Linked DNA regions of Homo sapiens. The protein of the gene in region 1 purifies or fractionates together with the protein of each later gene. This does not show direct contact. Each region holds a gene or a part of one and is shown in the gene's direction. Other genes may lie near its edges.

Region 1 (3,500 bases):
CCATCTTCCCCAACCCCAGGCTAGGGGTGCACAGGTCTGTGTCACAGGACCCTCCCACTCTAAATGGCCCTAGCAAGTCCTGAGTGTGAGGCAGTGCCAGAGCAGGGGAGAAATAGAGCAAGCCAGGGTCCTGTCCTCTAAGAACCCATCGAATCGAAGAGCTGATGGGTATAAAGGGAAACCAGCATGAGGTGGCCTGTGAGGTATCAGATGAATGTTGAAGTGCTATGGGTTGGCAGGAGGGTGGTAGAAGAGATGGCCTCACCCAGCCTACTGGAACTGCTTTCCAGCTTACCAAGCATTTTCTCATCATTAAGTCATACAATTGTCACAAAAGCCATCTACCTTGAGCAGAGTTGGTTTTACCATCGCCTCCTTCCCCAGACCTGAAGATGCAGCTGAAGCCCACTTGTCCAAGGCCAAATAACCTGAAATAACCCGTAAGGGACAGAGATGGGCATGGGACCTTCATTATCGAGCCCATGGGCTGCAGTGATTGTGGGCTGTGCTTAGGGCAGGCTCAGAAGAGCAGACAGGAAGCAAGGGGAACAGACACATTTCACATCAGGTGTCAGTTTGTGCATAATTAAACCCAACAGGCTACTGTTTTTTTAACAGCGTAATCTGATAATTGATACACGTATTGATTGGAGCCATTGACCACTATGCTGTAAAGATCAGGAGGAGAAAATTTAGAGGAGAATTTAACATTTGCTGTGCGCTGGGAGGTCATACCATGGAATGGCAAAAAGCTTGGGTCTTTTATTGGGGAAATCACTGAATCTCTCTGAGCCTCAGTTTTTCTTATTTGTAAAATGAGGATAATAGCACCTGCCTTATATTTTTGTGGGTTAAGTAGGGTAATACATACAGAGAGTCCTTTACAAATTATGCTGTTATCATTATCATTATTCATGTGATTTACCAAAAACTTGGATGCAATGCTGGGGAACAGTAATAATAAGGATGATGATAATAACCATAATAATCCCATTTTCTAAGCACATGCTGCATCTTGGGTACCATGACAGACTTTGGGGCAGGACTGTGAGCCGCCCCTGGCCTTAACGGGTGCCTAGTCAGTAGGGGAAGCCCAGTGTGCTCTGGGAGCCCATGAAGAAGCCCCCAGCCTGGCATGGGGATGAGGAGGACAGAGGTACATCCACCCCTGTATTCATCAAGTCTTTCCTGAACATCCATGAAAGGTCAGGCCCTATATCAGGACACAGAACATCCCAGATGGAGACATCGGCAGAGGTGGCAGCTGCCCATCTCCTTGCCTTGCCGAGGGACAGACACCTCTTTTTATTTTGTGTTGAGCATGCCTCACTCTGATTGACAGCTGCTTGCCGGGAAGCAGGCTGGATGGGAAGCGAGAGTTCATTCCAGTGGTATCTAGGAGAGAAGGTCAGTAAAGTGGGGAAGGGGCTTGTCCTGGACTCAAGGAGAGTATATGTTTAAGATCCTGGCATATAGTAGGTGCTCAGTAAGTGGGGGCCCTTACTGTCTCTTATGGATGAGGTGGACCGTTTTCACTTTCGGTCCTGTCACCATTCCAAGGGGAAGCAGAACTTGGTGGAGGGTTTGGTTTGGCCTGGGTATAGTGAACAGAGGAGGCTTCTATGTAGACATGTCACAGGATAGAGTCAGAAAGCTTTTCTAGACAGGGAACTTTTCCCAAAAGACTTTTACAGGAAGAATCATCCTTCCTGTGTTTGTGTCTGCTCCTTATGCTGTCACTGAAGGGGCTTGCAGGGGGTGAGGGAGCAAATGTGAGCCAAAGTGCTAGCAGCACATAGGTTCAGGTCTGGAGCTGGATGGCATCTAGCTGTCCCTTTAGGGTCCAAGGTACAGGCAGAAGTTGATGGTACAGCTGCGTTTGCTAGGATGCCTTAGTGCAGTGCTCCTCAAACTCTGTTGTCCGTGCAAATCACCTTGTCTGATTCCTCTGTGGCCAGGCCTGAGATTTTGAGGCATCTAACAAGCCTCAAATGATGGTGATGATGCTGGCCTGCAGACCACACTTGAGGAGGAAGACAGCGGAGACTGCTCCTGCCCACACCTACTCAGCACTGTCTGTTTGTGTGTGTGTGTGTGTACGTGTGCATGCGTGCGTGTGTGTGTGTGTGCTGATCTGACGCCTAGGCTTTCTTTGGCCACCAGAGTCTGCTCAGCCTGGACCTGGGAGGCAGGCAAGAAGCGCCAAAGCAGCCGGTAGCTGGGAGCCTCAGTTGCCCACAGCAGTACTGTCCTCAGGAACACATTTGTTATTGGCTTTCTTCCCTCCTTGGAAACTGCTCGCATGCACAGCCTTGTCTCAGATTCTGCTCCTGGAGAAGTCAACAACAAATGTCAGTTACAAAACCTGACCTTCTAGGCAGAAGGGGAGTTTATTGGAAGCCTATCAGGAGGTTCAAAGAGTACATTTAGAAACCAGACAAGAACCAGGAGAATCCCTGGAGAGCCCAGGAGCAGGAAACCCAGTAGCCAGGACATACTGGCCAGGGGCTGCCTACACTCTGCTGGGGAGGCGCTGCTGGTCTGATCAGTCCTCACCTTCGCTCTGTCCTTGTGCCTCCGTTTGATGGTGCACTTGGCTGAGCCTGTGTCACGGGTCCATGCCTTGACCTCCAGAGAGCAGAGAGAAGGAGAACATGTACTTCTCAGATATCCATTGAGGGGTGGGACACAGACTTCCAACAGTTTCCGTATTCCCAATAGGGGAATTACATTTTTTAAATTTTCTTTTGAGATGGAGTCTCACTCTGTTACTCAGGCTGGAGTGCAGTGGTGCAATCTCAGCTCACTGCAACCTCCACCTCCTGGGTTCAAGCGATCCTTGTGCCTCAGCCACCCGAGTAGCTGGAATTACAGGCACGTGCCACCACACCTGGCTAATTTTTGTATTTTTGGTAGAGATGGGGTTTCGCCATGGTAGCTAGGCTGATCTTGAACTCCTGACCTCAAGGGCTACGGCCTCCCAAAGTGCTGGGATTACAGGGGTGAGCCACCGCACCTGACCAGGGGAATTACCTTTAAACAGGAAGCCTGGGTGGGCTGCTGAGTAGACTCCCCCTCTCCCCGACTAAAAAACGTTTAGCACCAGGTACAAATACACCAGGTTGTGGGGTTGAAAAAGACATTGCTGACAAAAATGAGGAGTTGTGGGCTCACTCAGTGAACTCACAGCATCCTTGCCCTCCAGGGCTGGAGTCCTGAACTGAAAACACCTGGGGCAGCAGAGGGGTGGGGGGTAGTGTCCTTAGCATCCCAAAGTTCCTTTAGGGCAATGTGCACTTAAAGGAGTTTTCTCCACTCATTCAGTAAACAAAGTAATTTTGCTTTCAGTTGCTCTAGGAAACTTCCTTCTTCTCAGGGACTGAAATTTAGTAGCTGAACATCCTAACAAAGAAACAGCCAGAAAATAGCCCCAGGCATGAATGGGCTCTAAATCATCATTCCATTAAGTAACCATTGTTCTGACTTCCCCTTGCCTGTTC
Region 2 (3,500 bases), on another chromosome or scaffold:
GCATGTGCCACCACGCCCAGCTAATTTTGTATTTTTACTAGAGACGGGGTTTCTCCATGTTGGTCAGGCTGGTCTCGAACTCCCAACCTCAGGTGATCCACATGTCTCGGCCTCCCAAAGTGCTGAGATTACAGGCATGAGCCACGGCACCCGGCCTGTTTTAATTAAATTTAAATAGCCACATGTGGCTTGTGACTGCTGTATAGGTCAGCACAGCCTTAGAGCCTTAGAAATGTACAGTCCCAGAATGGTGGGACTCTGTAAGCATATTCCCTTAGAATCCCGAAATGCAGAGCCATCAGATCCTTGGAACTTGAAATGTCTAAGAGATTCTTAGACCTCTTGAAATGAAGACCTCTGGCCTGGCGCGGTGGCTCACGCCTGTAATCCCAGCACTTTGGGAGGCAAAGGTGGACAGATCTCTTGAGTGCAGGAGTTCGAGACCATGTTCGCCAACATAGTGAAACCCTGTCTCTACTAAAAATAAAAATAAAAAAAAAAATTAGCCAGGCGTGGTGGCATGCATCTGTAGTTCCAGCTATTTGGGAGGCTGAGGTGGGAGGATGGCCTGAGACTGTGAGGTGGAGATTGCAGTGAGTCAAGATCGCGCCACTGCACTCCAGCCCCAGCAGTAAAGCAAGAACCTATCTCAAAAAAAAAAAAAAAAAAAAAAAAAAAAGAGCTTTGGAAATGTGAAACGTTATCATCACAGACCTAAGAAATTTTAGTCATTGTTCCCTAGGATCATAGGCCCTTAGAAACTGAAACTGTAATACACAGGAACCTTTGGGACTTGATAATACTAAACCTTTGGAGTTTCCAATTAGAAATGTGGATCTTGAGAAATCTGACATAGAGTGACCAAAACCTTCCTGCTTTTACCACCGAAACTCTCAGCCTTGGGCCAACCAGTACAGTGGGTCACCCTACCATTTTTTTTTTTTTTTTGAGTCAGGGTCTCACTCTTCACCCAGGCTGGAGTGCAGTGGTGTGATCATGGCTCACTGCAGCCTTGAACTCCTGGACTCAAGTGATCCTCCCACCTCAGCCTCCTGAATAGCTGGAACTACAGGCATGCGCCACCATGCCTGGCTAATTAAAAATAATTTTTTTTTTTGGCGAAGCATGGTGGCGGATGCCTGTAATCCCAGCACTTTGGGAGGCTGAGGCGGATGGATCACTTGAGATCAGGAGTTTGAGACCAGCCTGACCAATATGGTGACACTACTAAAAATACAAAAATTAGATGGGTGTGGTGGTGGGCACCTGTAATCTCAGCTACCCAGGAGGCTGAGGCAGGAGAATCACTTGAACCCGGGAGATGGGGGTTTCAGTGAGCTGAGATCACACCATTTCAATCCATCCTAAGTGACAAGAGCTTAACTCCGTCTCAAAACAAAACAAAAAAATTTTTTTGTAAGATGGGGTCTTGCTATGTTGCCCAGGCTGGTGTGGAACTCCTGGGCTAAAATAACCCTCCCACCTCGGCCTCCGAAAGTGCTTTGATTACAGGGGTAAGCCAGAGTGCCTAGTAGTCACCCTACTTTGATGTATCAGAACAATATTAGCAAAGACCAGAGAACTTTATAGTTATAGAAAGACCTTAGACCTTTAGAACTGTAGACCCTTGAACCTTAGTACTTAGTATTCATAGAGGTCTGGAACCTTAGAAGTGTTTAATCATCAGCATTAAAACTGGCAAAGACCCTGAGGAGCCTCAGAGATATGGAACGTCATAATCATAAGCCTTTAAAACATGACACCCTAGCACCTTTGACCCTTGGGACCTTAACATCTTAGAAACACGGAGCGCTAGAATCATAAAATATAGATGATCATAATCATGAATTCTTAAAACCCAAAGGTCAGAATCAGTTCCCTCCAAATCTTAGAACTTTAGTAACTCAGCAGTTTATAATCACAAGATGGATCTCTGATACTAAGATTTTTGGAACTTTATTTATTTATTTATTTATTTGAGGTGGAGTCTCACTCTGTTGCCCAGGCTGGAGTGCAGTGGCGCAATGTCAGCTCACTGCAACCTCCACCTCCCAGGTTCATGAGATTCTCCCGCCTCGGGAGTCCCGAGTAGCTGGGACTACAGGCCCGCACCACCATGCCTGGCTAATTTTTGTATTTTTAATTGAGGCGGGGTTTCACCATGATGGCCAGGCTGGTCTTGAACTCCTGGGCTCGGGCAATCTGCCCACCTTGGCCTCCCAAAATGCTAGGATTACAGGCATGAGCCATGGCGCTGGCTCAAGAAACCTGGCTGATCTAGAAACCTGTAGTCCCAGCACTTTGAGAGGCCGAGGCGGGCGGATCGCTTGAGCCCAGGAGTTCGAGACCAGCCTGGCCAACATGGTGAAACCCCGTCTCTACTAAAAATATAAACATTAGCCAGGTGTGGTGGCGCATGCCTGTAGTTCCAGCTAGTCAACAGGCTGAGGTGGGAGAATCTCCTGAGCCCGGGAAGCAGAGGTTGCAGTGAGCCGAGATTGTGCCACTGCACTCCAGCCTGGGCAACAGGTTGAGACCCTGTCTCAAAACAATAAGAAACCTGGTTAGGCGCGGTAGCTCACGCCTATAATCCCAGCGCTTTGGGAGGCCAAGGTGGGGGGATCACTGGAGGTTGGGTGTTTGAGACCAGCCTGGCCAGCACGGCAAAACCCTGTCTCTATTAAAAATACAAAAATTAGCTGGGTGTGGTGGCGCGTGCCTCTAATCCCAGCTACTCAGGAGGATGAGGCAGGAGAATCGCCTGAACCTCAGAGGCGGAGGTTGCAGTGAGCCTAGATCGTGCCATTGTACTCCAGCCTGGGCGTCAATAGCAAAACTCTGTCTCAAAAAAAAAAAAAAAAAAGAGAGAGAGAGAGAAATCTGTATATGCCACAAAGTATGAACCAGATTCAACTGGTGGATTGCCAGCTTTGTCTGATCTAGAAACCTAGACTGATGAAAACATACACTCATGGAAACTTACAGTCATACTTTTAGAGCCTTAGAACCTTAAAAAGGTAGGAACATATCAACTTAGAATTCTAGAATTTACTAATTTAGTGTAAGTGAGTTTGTTTTTAGTTTTGTTTGTTTGTTTTTGTTTTTGAGAAGGAGTCTTGCTCTGTCGCCCAGGCTGGAGGGCAGTGACACTATCTCGGCTCACTGCAAGCTCCGCCTCCTGGGTTCATGCCATTCTCCTGCCTCAGCCTCCCGAGTAGCTAGGACTACAGGCGCCTGCCACCATGCCCCGCTAATTTTTTGTATTTTTAGCAGAGATGGGGTTTCACTGTGTTAGCCAGGATGGTTTTGATCTCCTGACCGCGTGATCTGCCCGCCTTGGCCTCCCAAAGTGCTGGAATTACAGGCATGAGCCACCGCGCCCGTCCTGTTTTTAGTTTTTGTTTGTTTTTTGAGGAGGAGGGGGTCTCTCCATGTTGCCTAGACAGGTCTCAAACTCCCGGTGTCAACTCATCCTTCTGAGTAGCTGGGATTACAGATGT
Region 3 (4,176 bases), on another chromosome or scaffold:
TTTACAGGCTCATAAGCATAAGCGACTTCCTTTGTCTCAGACAGGACTTTGGACTGTGGACTTTTGAGTTAATGTGAAATGAGTTAAGACTTTGGAGGACTGTTGGGAAGGCATGATTGGTTTTGAAATGTGAGGAGATGAGATTTGGCAGGGGTGGAATGATATAGTTTGGCTCTGTGTCCCCACCCAAATCTCATCTTATAGTCCCATAATTCCCACATGTTGTGGGAGGGACCGGGTGGGAGATAACTGAATCACAGGGGCAGTTTCCCCCATATTGTTCTGTGGTAGTGAATAAGTCTCAGGAGATCTGATGCTTTTATCAGGGGTTTCCGCTTTTGCGTCTTCCTCATTTTCTCTTGCCACTGCCATGCAAGAAGTGCTTTTTGCCTCCTGCCATGATTCTGAGGCCTCCCCAGCCATATGGAACTGTAAGTCCAATTAAACCTCTTTTTCTTCCCAGTCTTGGTTATGTCTTTATCAGCAGCATGAAAACGGACTAATACAGGGGAGGGCCAATTAAGACCACGAGTTTGAGACCAGCCTGTGAAACACAGCAAGACACCATCTCTACAAAAATAAAAAATAAATCAGTCAGGTGTAGTGGTGTAGACCTGTAGTATGGGAGGCTGAGGCAGGAGGATTCCTTGAGCCCAGGAGTTCAAGGTTACAGTCAGCTATGATTGCACCATTGCACTCCAGCCTGGGCAACAGAGCAAGACCCTGTCTCTAAAATCATTCAATCCATCAATCAAGTCCCAAAATATACAGCAAAAATGGACAGAGTTAAAGAATGAGGCCAGGCACAGTGGCTCATGCCTGTAATCCCAGCACTTTGGGAGGCCGAGGTGGGTGGATCACTTGAGGTCAAGCCATTGCACTCCAGCCTGGGTGACAGAGACTCCGTCTCAAAAAACAAACAAACAAACAAACAAACAAAAAACAAAACCCCCAAACCAACTAGAAAGAAAAGAGCAAAGCGACCCCAAAGTAAGAAACCGAGAGTCAGACCTTCCTGGGCGCCCAGGGATCTCACGGTTCCCTCCTGATCTCCCATTTTGTGACTGGCTTTCCCAAGGGTTCCTGCTGAAGCCCCTTCTCCGTGGTCAGCTCTGTGGTCTGCACGGGGCTGAACTGCCCTCCTGAGCCATCCTGACCCTGGGCCTGCACACACTTGGGGACGGAGAGGGAAGAGGTACCCAAGAAGTCCCCAGTGCCGACTGACCCCAAGCTCCGAGGTCCCAGCTGCTCTCTGGGACTCTGTCCCTGGGACCCCTCTGCCAGCGCCCTTCGACGCCCGAGACCCCCACTGTCCCCAAGACCCTCACTATCCCCGCGACCCCGGTGGCGGTTGGGCGCGCCTCGCGGCCTCTCCCAGCTTCTCCTGGGCCGGCGCCATGAGGCCTGGGCCCGCTCTCCTCCTTCTGGGCGTGGGCCTGAGCCTGAGCGTCGGCCGCCTCCCGCTGCCGCCGGTTCCTCGCGGGGCACAAGCCGCCGTCTCCGGGGCGCCCGGTGGCCTCCTCAGGGGCGCCCCGGGCCTCGGGGTGCGCGGCGGCCGCGCCCTCCTCAGTCTGCGGCCCAGCGCGGTGCGGGCGGGCGGCGCTGTCCTGAGCGGCCGCGGCAGCCTCTGCTTCCCCCATGGCGGGACCGGGCGGCGCTGGTACTGCCTCGACTTGCGCGTCCTGCTCAGCGCCCAACGCCTGCCCTGGCCGGCCGCGCCCGCGCTCGCGCTCGTCGACCTGCAGCTCTCCGCGCGCGGCGGCCGCCTCTCCCTGACGTGGTCCGTGCGGCTGCCGCGCTCGCCCGGGCGCCTGGCCTGGGCCTTCCGCCTGCGGCTGCTCGGACCCGGCGCCGCCCGCCCGGCCTCCCCCGCGGCCCGCGTCTCCCCGCGCTCCGCCGCGCCAGGCCCGCGGCCCCAGCAGGGCTTCGTGGCCCGCACCGAGTGCCCCACAGACGGCCCCGCGCGCGTGATGTTGCAGGCCGTCAACTCGTCCAGCCACAGAGCCGTCGAGTCGTCCGTGTCCTGTCAGATAAACGCCTGCGTCATCCAGCGCGTGAGGATCAACACGGACCAGAAGGGCGCCCCCGTGCGCCTGAGCATGCAGGCGGAGGCCACCATCAACGCCTCGGTGCAGCTGGACTGCCCGGCCGCGCGCGCCATCGCCCAGTACTGGCAGGTGTTCTCCGTGCCCGCCGTGGGTCAGGCGCCCGACTGGACGCAGCCCTTGGATCTGCCCCAGCTCGAGATCAGGAACAGCCCCTTGTTCATTCACATCCCCAATAATTCGTTACAGTGGGGAGTGTATGTGTTTAATTTCACGGTGTCCATCACCACAGGGAACCCCAAGATGCCCGAGGTGAAAGACTCGGACGCCGTCTATGTCTGGATCGTCAGGAGTTCCCTGCAGGCGGTGATGCTTGGCGATGCCAACATAACAGCTAATTTCACAGAGCAGCTGATTCTGGACGGGTCCACGTCCTCGGACCCAGATGCGGACAGCCCGTTACAGGGACTCCAGTTCTTTTGGTACTGTACCACAGATCCCAGAAACTACGGTGGGGATCGAATAATCCTGGGGAGCAAGGAAGTCTGTCACCCCGAGCAGGCCAATCTGAAATGGCCCTGGGCCTCGGGCCCTGTACTGACACTTTTGCCAGAAACACTTAAAGGCGACCACGTGTATTTCTTCAGAATGGTGATTCGGAAGGACTCTAGGACAGCGTTTTCTGATAAGAGGGTCCACGTGCTCCAAGGACCAAAAGCCATAGCACACATCACATGTATCGAAAATTGTGAGAGAAACTTCATTGTCTCTGATAGATTTTCTTTGTTCCTAAATTGCACAAATTGTGCAAGCCGTGATTTCTATAAATGGTCAATTTTGTCTTCTTCAGGTGGTGAGATGCTATTTGATTGGATGGGGGAAACTGTAACAGGAAGGAATGGTGCTTATCTGTCTATAAAAGCTTTTGCTTTTCGGCATTTTTTGGAAGCTGAGTTTTCGATTTCTCTGTATCTAGCATGTTGGAGTGGAGTGACCTCGGTCTTCAGGCATTCTTTTATTATTAACCATGGCCCTCAGATCGGAGAATGCAAAATTAATCCAGCTAAAGGAATTGCACTTATTACTAAATTTGTTGTCCAGTGTAGTAATTTTAGGGATAAGCACGTCCCTCTTACATATAAAATAATTGTTTCTGATTTGCACAGTGTTGGTGAAATCAGTTCAGTAAAAGAGAACACCCTGGGGACCATCCTGTACTTGGGGCCTCAGTCCACAGTACCCCCTTCCTTTCTCCCTGTTGGTATGTTGGCTAGTCAATATGGCTTGAAGATATATGCCCAGGTCTATGATTCTCTAGGAGCTTTTTCTCAGGTGACTTTGCATGCCACCGCACAGGCTCCCACTGACAAAAATTCATCAAAGACAGTGTTGAATCAGTTACTCAGTTTCACCGTGGGACCAAGTTCATTGCTGTCTACTTTGATTCAAAAGAAGGATTTTTTACCTGCAGGTTACTTACTGTATATAGTAGCTTCCGTTTTGAATAACATGAAAACTGAATTACCTCTCCGAGATGACAGAGTCAATCTCCGAAAACACCTCATCGATCAGTCTTTCCTTCTTCCTGTAAGCACTTTGGTAGAAATTGGCCAGGTAGTCATGACTATTACCAAATTAACCCAGAAACCCTCTGAATTCACTTGGGATGCTCAGAAACGTGCCACCATGAGGGTATGGCAAGCAAATCAAGCCCTACAAGAGTATCAGCAAAAAGATAAACGCTTTCGATCTGAACAAATAGAAATCGTGAGTACTGGAATACTAATGAGTTTGTCTAATATTCTTAAAATGACTTCTCCTCACCAAGTAGTTAAAGATCCTTTCTATGTAATAGAATCTCTATCAGACACAATACTGGCTAATAAAGTGCCAGGGAACAAAACCACCTCAATGAGAACCCCCAATTTCAACATGTATGTCAAGAAAGTTGAAAAGTGGGGTATCAACCAGCTCTTCAGAAATGAGAAACACTGCAGAAATTGTTTTTATCCAACACTCAATGTGAGCAGTGTTCCTGGTCTGTCTGCAAATGGTCCCATTTCTACAATGTTTTGTGATTTCACAAATGACCTCTTTCCTTGGTTAAATGATCAGGAAAACACTTCGGTGG
Region 4 (2,854 bases), on another chromosome or scaffold:
AATACATGTTCAAAGAGTAAATTAAAGAAAAAAGAGATGCTCAAGTCAATTTATAAGTAATCCTCACAAATGCTTGCATACCATCAGTGAACAATTATTTTTTTATCTCCATGCTATAATCTTGCACAAGTTTCATTAGAATTAAATGCACTATCTGAAGTCTATGTTTATTAAATGAGGATTACAGTAGTTGGTTATCTTTGTGAGGGGTTTTGAGGGTTGTGGAACAGGATAACATTTTGAGGTACAAAAAATAATGAAGAGGATATATTCCAATTTCTTTCCTTCCCCAAGGCTTTTCATTACAGCTGTTATAAACCCTGGTAGAATTGATTGGTTTCCTTTTCAGCTTCCTGTTTTGTCCCTCAATGTTCACAAAAGTCCCATCTGATAAATGTATTGTTTAACCTCTCATTGTTTGAAAGAACACCTCTTTGCTCCCCACAGATTACAGACCTATTGGCTTAAGCAGTCCATCTAAATGCATGCCAGTTTCTTTCTTGATAAATTAGAGGCCTATAACCTCAAACCAGTTTATCTGCAAGAGAAGTGTGTGAAGTTAGACTCAATTCTTCCGCTAATGGAACATCGTAATCCTCCTTGTCATCTTTCCTTTGGCCTTCCTGAATAGAAATCATTTATGAGGAAGTTACATGAGCTCAACATGAGCCCCATGTCACTCAGCAAACATTTATTTGAGTACTTACAATGTGCTAGGCTTTGTTCTATGCATTTAAGATAGTGTATTAAATGTATTGACCTCATGAAGATTCTATTCTCGCAGTGGGGAGATAGACAATAAACAATTAATATAAGCAAATGTTAAGTATGTTAGAAGTATGTTAGAAGATGTGCTGTGAAATAAAGAAAAAGGTAGACCAGGGTATGAGGGATTAGGAGTGTGGGGGCAGCAGCAGGAGAGTTTCGGTATTAAATAGGGTGGACAGGGCAGGTCTCTTGGAGAAGATGCCATTGAAGGAGGTGGAAAAAATGTAGCCACTAAATGGGCTGAGGGTAGAGCATATGAACAGAGAGAAAGGCCAGAGGACAGGCTCCAAGGCATGCTTGGCAGGTTCAAGGAACAGCAGGGAGGCTCATGTGGCTGGAATGGAGTGAGCTAGCAGGAGAGAAGATGAAGTTAGAGGGAGAGAGAAAGTGGGGAGCCAGATCATAGAGGGCTTTGCAGGTCACTTGTAAGGACTTTAGCTTTCTAACTTTTGTAAGGACTTCAACTTCTACTCACAGTGAAATTGTGAAATTCCAGAACCAAAAAGAAGATCCTGGTAAAAGAGAAACTTTCAGCAAAATATATTTAACATTTTATTTGAGTGAAGAACAATTCATCCATCAGGCAGCACTGAGAACCAGAAGACATTCAGAGAGCTCTGCTTTGCGAGGTATGCAGTGAACATTCATAGACAGAAAACAAAAATTAAGTACAGAAATAGCTTGATTGGTTACAGATAGGCATTTGCCTTATTTGGACATGGTCTGCTCCAAATAAGGCAAGTTGGCAGCATGCAATTGGCTGTGACCTATCTGTTACAAAAATATATCTATATAATCCTAAATTAGGTTTCAGTTTATTTAAGTACTAAATTAGGTTGCAATTTATTACATGGGAACTCAAAGTCTGGAGACAGCCTCAGGCCAAGGTCCTCTTGCTTATTTAATTTAGCAATCCTAAAATTTTCCAGAGAGGAAACACATCACACACACACACACACACACACACACACACACACACACACACACTACCTACAAAAAAATAACAATTAGAAAGTAATTGGAGCTTGAAGTATTCTAGAAGACTTTGGAGCAAAGCCTTCCAAATTCTGAGAGGAAAATATTTTTAACCTAGGATTCTATTCATACCTACCCAGACTAACAAGTAGCAGGCAGATGATAAATATATTTTTAGGTGGTTAGGTGATGAAACACCTCCTCCAAATGAAGGCATAAACAACAATGCATGGGGATCCAAGAAACAGTGACTCCAACCCAAGAGAGCAGTGAACAAATCCACAGGACAGCAGCTAAGTAGGAGGCCTAAACATCACCTGGGGCAGATGGGGCGAGAGAGCAGAGAGCTTGGGAAAGAAGTCTCTGAGGAGAAAGAATGAGGCAATAAGTCAGATGCGTATTTGCGGACCTCAGAAAAATTTGAGTACATAGGAAACAATAGATGAAGGATAGAAATAATCCATTCAGATTCTCTCCTTTGCATGATGACCACATTAAACTTACAGAGTAAGAAATGTCATTCTAGATTTGATTCTACTGTTTGTCTTTGCAGTGAGCTATGTTTTTTTATAACATGTAGAAGTGAAATAAACTTGTCACAAAAATGCAAATTGTGTCACCAATTTTCAGCTTAACAACATAAAAATAATTATATACACTGACCCAGGTTAAGGACGGGTAGAAGTACGAATGTCCTTATCTTCCAGAGTGAAGTGAGGCTGTAGTCAGGCATTGCAAACTCACATAGTTAAGGGTGTTTTGTAGGTAAAGTACATGACGGTAGTTAGTGCATGCACTATTTTAAAAAGGCAGTAGTTTCTCTGCTCCAAAAGAGTATTGTCATGAAGAAAGAGACCCAGATGTTCCAGTTTACCCAGAATTTACCCCAATCCGGGTTTTTATGTAAAATATTTCAAATGTTCACAACTACTTAAAACATTTAAATATATGAGGGTCAAACAATACCATATCCAGCCTGGGGTTTCCAGTTTGTGACATTGCTACAGCAGATGGATAAGAAAATGAAGTAAGGTGTTTGAATGTATGAAATTAACCAGTATAGATGTTAAACTGGCAGCAGCAGCTCTAGAGTATGGAAGGGCCATCCGGT

What was found. The genes of interacting proteins can lie anywhere in the genome.
Region 2: the proteins of ESRRB (region 1) and SPTBN4 purify together in Homo sapiens (affinity purification with mass spectrometry, with the first as the bait; one large-scale study listed by BioGRID). This does not show direct contact.
Region 3: the proteins of ESRRB (region 1) and PKDREJ purify together in Homo sapiens (affinity purification with mass spectrometry, with the first as the bait; one large-scale study listed by BioGRID). This does not show direct contact.
Region 4: the proteins of ESRRB (region 1) and DNAJC10 purify together in Homo sapiens (affinity purification with mass spectrometry, with the first as the bait; one large-scale study listed by BioGRID). This does not show direct contact.

Annotation. Positions count from the first base shown.
Region 1 is NC_000014.9:76,477,137-76,480,636, forward strand, and holds part of ESRRB (steroid hormone receptor ERR2), read left to right. Parts: intron 1-3,500.
Region 2 is NC_000019.10:40,473,501-40,477,000, forward strand, and holds part of SPTBN4 (spectrin beta chain, non-erythrocytic 4), read left to right. Parts: intron 1-3,500.
Region 3 is NC_000022.11:46,260,544-46,264,719, reverse strand, and holds the start of PKDREJ (polycystin family receptor for egg jelly precursor), read left to right. Parts: upstream 1-1,376; 5' UTR 1,377-1,397; coding exon 1,398-4,176. UniProt on the Homo sapiens protein: Testis-specific protein that controls sperm transport and the timing of zona pellucida-evoked exocytosis of the sperm acrosome.
Region 4 is NC_000002.12:182,792,111-182,794,964, forward strand, and holds the end of DNAJC10 (dnaJ homolog subfamily C member 10 isoform 1 precursor), read left to right. Parts: 3' UTR 1-2,354; downstream 2,355-2,854. UniProt on the Homo sapiens protein: Endoplasmic reticulum disulfide reductase involved both in the correct folding of proteins and degradation of misfolded proteins.